Linked DNA regions of Homo sapiens: region 2 is linked to region 1. The links come from fine-mapping of genetic effects on gene expression. A gene starts in region 1. The other region holds a variant in brackets. All regions are shown on one strand. Distances are from middle to middle.

Evidence for each region. PIP is the estimated chance that this variant, and not a neighbour inherited with it, causes the effect. A credible set is the group of variants that fine-mapping cannot tell apart.
Region 2: its variant is the best candidate, but not a certain one, in a credible set for the expression of VAV1 in whole blood (INTERVAL, PIP 0.56).

The regions. Positions count from the first base shown.
Region 1 is chr19:6,771,181-6,774,163 of GRCh38, forward strand. VAV1 (vav guanine nucleotide exchange factor 1) reads left to right here and starts at 1,528. Exons shown (of 27, transcript NM_005428.4): 1 at 1,528-1,831. The coding sequence starts at 1,628. RefSeq lists a silencer at 1,347-1,596 and enhancers at 1,758-2,258, 2,367-2,416.
Region 2 is chr19:6,826,456-6,828,955 of GRCh38, forward strand. It overlaps VAV1 (vav guanine nucleotide exchange factor 1), which reads left to right. Exons shown (of 27, transcript NM_005428.4): 9 at 157-256; 10 at 1,621-1,716; 11 at 1,964-2,032; 12 at 2,167-2,253; 13 at 2,360-2,445. Among named protein-coding and RNA genes, the nearest start is that of VAV1, 55 kb to the left of the region's middle. The variant A/ATT (reference allele first, on the strand shown) is at 1,308.

The DNA.
Region 1 (2,983 bases):
GTGGCTCACGCCTGTAATCCCAGCACTTTGGGAGGCTGAGGCAGGTGGATCACCTGAGGTCAGGAGTTCGAGACCAGCCTGACCAACATGGAGAAACCCTGTCTCTACTAAAAATACAAAATTAGCTGGGCGTGGTGATGCATGCCCGTAATCTCAGCTACTTGGGAAGCTGAGACAGGAGAATCGCTTGAACCCAGGAGGCAGAGGTTGTGGTGAGCTGATCACACCACTGCACTCTAGCCTGGGCAACGAGAGTGAAACTCCGTCTCAAAAGAAAAAAAAAGAAGAAAGAAGCCTGGCGCGGTGGCTCACGCCTGTAATCCCAGCACTTTGGGAGGCTGAGGCGGGCGGATCATGAGATCGGGAGATCGAGACCACGATGAAACCCTGTCTCTACTAAAAATACAAAAAATTAGCCAGACGCGGTGGCGGACGCCTGTAGTCCCAGCTACTCAGGAGGCTGAGGCAGGAGAATGGCGTGAACCCGGGAAGCGGAGCTTGCAGTGAACTGAGATTGCGCCACCGCACTCCAGCCTGGGTGACAGAGTGAGACTCCGTCTCAAAAAAAAAAAAAGAAGAAAGAAACAAAGAGAGAAAGAAAGGAAAGAAAGAAAGGAAGGAAGGAAGGAAGGAAGGAAGGAAGGAAGAAAGGAAGGGAGGGAAAGAGGGAGAGAAAGGAAGGAAGGAAAAAAATAACTTAAAAAATCAGATTTGTTGGACAAAGATCAGGGCTTAACCTAGGGAGGTGGGTAGAGCTAATGGAATGCGGAAAAGGCTGTGATTTGAAATGAGGGGATTTAGGAAGACCTCATGAGAAGGTAGCATTTGAGCAAAGACATGTAGGGGTGAGGGAGCTAGCCATGAAGTTGCTTAAGGTGGAGGACACAGCCCGTGCAAAGGCCCTGGGGCAGGGCCGTATGTTCCTGGCATGTTGGAGGAAGAGCGAAGAGGCCCGTGTGGCTGGAGCACAGTGAAGAGGGGGAGAGAGGGAGTGGGGAGGGCAGGGAGGGAACTGGGCAATTCAAGCAGGGTTTTGTGGGCCTTGGGGAGGACTTGGGCTTGTCCCTGGAGGAAAGTGGGAGCCATAGAGAGTTGTGGGCAGAAGAAGGGTGTGCCCTGACTCAGATGCTCACAGGCAACCTCTGGTGGTGGCTGCAGGGAGGACAGACTGTGGGGTACGGGGGCTGGAGTCAGAAGACCAGCTGAGTGATGACGGGGCTGGACCAGACAGAGGAGGGGGTGAGAAGTGGGTGAATTCTGGGTATATTTCAGAGTGTCACTGCCGCCGTCTGCATATGGAGGAAGCTCACCCATCTCATAGTCTAGCTGGCCTGACTCCCCCAGCCCCCCAACTCCCCATGCCCAGGCCTGTGTCGAGTGGGCGGAAGAAAGAGATGTCAGATTCTGCATGGAAGGCGTGGGGTGGGGCTGGGCTGCAGGTGCTCCCCCAGCTCCCCCCCGCCCCATGGCTCCTCCTCCTCCACCCCCTCTCAGGGCGACAGTTACAGGCAAAGAAGAGGAAGTGGTAGCACTAGCTGTCGCTCCACAGGCGAGCAGGGCAGGCGTGCGGGCGGGTGGGTGGTGGAGGCTGCGAGGGTGCACGGCCGGCCCTGGGCAGGCGGTAGCCATGGAGCTGTGGCGCCAATGCACCCACTGGCTCATCCAGTGCCGGGTGCTGCCGCCCAGCCACCGCGTGACCTGGGATGGGGCTCAGGTGTGTGAACTGGCCCAGGCCCTCCGGGATGGTGTCCTTCTGTGTCAGCTGCTTAACAACCTGCTACCCCATGCCATCAACCTGCGTGAGGTCAACCTGCGCCCCCAGATGTCCCAGGTGAGCCCTCCGCGGGCAGGTGTGCTGAGGGTTGGAGACGGGGGTCCTCCCCGGGGCTGACAGTCGAGGGGCTGACGTGCTGCTCCACCTCTGGGCCTGCAAAGGAGAGGGAATATGCTTACAGGTCCAGGGCTGGCCCAGGGGGTGGTCACAATCTGAGATTCTGGGGTGGCCTCCCCAAGCTTAACAGGCTCCCTGTGTGGGTTCACGGGCCCTGAGTTGGCCCGCATCTGGGCTGAGAACTGGCAAACTAGGGGTTAACTCTCTCAAGCCCCAGGCGCCTCTACTGTGGTTCATGCCCCCAGATGGGACCAACCAGAGGTCTCGGGGGAGCTCCCCAGAACCCCCAGGGTGGCCATTGGGTTACCTGAGGCTTTGGACTCCTTTGACCCCCAGAGTCTGGATGTGGGGGAGGAGCCTCCGCCAACATCTTCCCCCACATGTGTCTCCTCCTCCCGGGCCCTGGGCCCCTTCCTTCCCCTTACATCTTCCTTCCCCTTGGCTTCCTGCCTGGGCCTGGGGCAGCATGGGGCAGGTGGGGGGCTGCAGCCCCAGGGATCTGAGCTTCCTCCCTGCATCCATCTCAGAGGAGATAGTAAGGCAGGGCCCAGTCCTGGGCTCAGAGAGTGGGTCCTGAGGTCTTGGTGCTTGGAAGAGCTGCATTTTCTCGGCAGGGATTTCTGCAGGGGCCCAGGCTGGAGGGGTGGTGGTGGATTTGACTGTGGCTGTATGAGACTGGCTCAGGAAATATATTCAAATCCCTATTTGAATGTGGTTGGGTGGGCGTGTGATGTGGCTGCATTATGTTGCTGTAGCATCATGTCTGGTTCCCCAGGGCTGCTGGGTGGGAACGGGGGACGGGGCGGGGCTGGTGGAGTCCCATCTCCTCTGGGATGAAAGGAGATACAGCCCTATCCTGGGGCCTGGGGGACACAGTCCTGCCCTGAGGTCTGAGGGGACAGCTCCCATCTGGTCCTCAGGCTGGCCCTGCAGATGAAGAGCTGGGAGGATAAGTTAATGGAGATGGGCCCATGGGGGTTCCTGGCGGGTGGTTTTCAGGGGCAGGGCCATTGGTGGAAGAGATCCATGCGCCTTTACTCCTTCTGTTTATTTTATTTATTTATTTATTTTTTTGAGACGGAGTCTCACTCT
Region 2 (2,500 bases), 55 kb after region 1:
CATGGGAGATGCTATTGTTATGCCCATTTCACAGATGGAGAAACTGGGACTCAGGTTTCTTCTCCAGCGGGGAAGAGCAAGGCCAGGGCTGACGCCAGCCTCTGCCCGACCTTGATGCCAGTCACCTTTACCTGGTGGCCTGTCTTCTCCCTGTAGGTTCCTCGTCTATGGCCGCTACTGCAGCCAGGTGGAGTCAGCCAGCAAACACCTGGACCGTGTGGCCGCAGCCCGGGAGGACGTGCAGATGAAGCTGGAGGTGGGCGCCGGGCCACTTCTCGGGGGCCTCTCCCGCTCCTCCCCAGGCCCTGGGGGCAGCAGGGAGGACACTGAGTTGCAGATGGTCCACTTTCTGCTGCAGCCCAGCCAGAGATCCACCAAAGGACTAGGGAGGGAGGTACTAGCCAGCCAAGCAGAGGAAATGGAGAAGAACAGAAATGGGCTGGCCCTGGGTCTGGGCTGACCCCTGATATCAGGGTGAAGTCCTGACCCTGAACTGAGCTCTGATCTCACACTCAACCCCAGCCCTGGGCTGAGCCCTAGCACTGATTGTACCCCAAGTCGGGCTGAGCTCCCACTTCTCACTGAACCCCAATTCCAACCAACCCCTGATCCCAGGCTGAACTTGATCTTGAACTGAACTTCAACCTGGATCTGTCTGGTGGAAACACAGACAGGGCAGGGGTGGTGAGGACGGGGGCTCTCCAGATCTGTCCCCCTCCCCATCTCCAGCCCCCCTCAGCAGGCAGAATACTGGACCTCTATCCCAGGCAGCATTTGCCACATTCCAGTGGGTTTGTTTGTTTGTTTGTTTTGTTTTGTTTTGTTTTTTTGAGACAGGGTCTCATTCTGTCCCCCAAGCTGGAGTGTAGTGGCATGATCATAGCTCACCACAGCCTCGACCTCCTGGACTCAAGCAATCCTCCCAACTCCTACCTTGGCCTCCTGAGTAGCTGGGACTACAGATGCATGCCACCATTCCTGGCTAATTTTTGTGTTTTTTGCAGAGATGGGGTTTCACCATGTTATCCAGGGTGGTCTCAAACTCCTGGGCTCAAGCGACTCACCCACTCAGCCTCTCAAAGAGCTAGGATTACAGGCCTGAGCAATCGTGCCCAGCCTCTTCCCATTGCTTTTTTGTTTGTTTGTTTGTCTTTGTTTTTTGAGATGGAGTCTCCCTCTGTCACCCAGGTTGGAGTGAAGTGGTGTGATCTCAGCTCAATGCCATCTCTGCCTCCCGGGTTCAAGCAATTCTCCTGCCTCAGTCTCCTGAGTAGCTGGGATTGCAGGAGTCTGCCACCACGCCAGCT[A/ATT]TTTTTTTTTTTTTCATAGCAGAGACGGGGTTTCCCCGTGTTGGCCAGGCTGGTCTTGAACTCCTGACCTCAAGTGATCCTCCCGCCTCGGCCTCCCAAAGTTCCTTCCAGTGGTTCTCAAGCTGCCCCCACCTCATGGAGTCCTTTTCCTGTTTCCTTGGGGGCAGATATGATGCTTTGGCCTCTAGAAAAATTCCCACAGCTCTGGGGTGGAGAGCTGCTCACGTATTTATTCAAATCTATCTGCACCCACCCTGCAACTGGCTGTTTCTGGGACCTGCCTCAGTTTCCCCATTGTTCTCTGATTCCCCAGGAATGTTCTCAGAGAGCCAACAACGGGAGGTTCACCCTGCGGGACCTGCTGATGGTGCCTATGCAGCGAGTTCTCAAATATCACCTCCTTCTCCAGGTGCCAGGCACATCTCTAGGCGTGGGCTCCACGTACCTACTCTCCTGTGTCTATAAAAGTGGGGACGGGGCTGGCTTCTGGGGGTTGGGTCTCTAGGACGCTCGGGGATGGGTCACTGGGGTCATGTCTCAGCCTCCAGGGTCAGCAGTACGATGGAGGAGCTGGTGAGCTAGCATTGTTTGGAAGGCCCTCCCCGCAGGGAGAAGGGGAGGGGCCCAGGTGACGTCTGACGTCTTGGTTCTCTCAGGAGCTGGTGAAACACACGCAGGAGGCGATGGAGAAGGAGAACCTGCGGCTGGCCCTGGATGCCATGAGGGTGAGTGGGTGTAGGGTGCTGGTGACTCACCTGCTGCAGACACCCTCCTGGTAGGGGCTGATCCTCTAGCCGGGATTAGGTAGGAGCCTGGGTCGGCTGTTGGGGGGCCAGGTTCACCCCTGCCCCCTCCCCAGGACCTGGCTCAGTGCGTGAACGAGGTCAAGCGAGACAACGAGACACTGCGACAGATCACCAATTTCCAGCTGTCCATTGAGAACCTGGTGAGGCGGTGGAGCCGGGTGGGCCAGGGGTGTGGCCACGTGGGGAGAGTGTGTGTCTGGCTCCTTTCTTGGGAGACCCTTGCTAGACCCCCTGCCTACTGCATAGGACCAGTCTCTGGCTCACTATGGCCGGCCCAAGATCGACGGGGAACTCAAGATCACCTCGGTGGAACGGCGCTCCAAGATGGACAGGTGGGTGGAGTCAACATGGATCTGGGATGGAGCCTGGGCAAAGGGGTGGGACCAG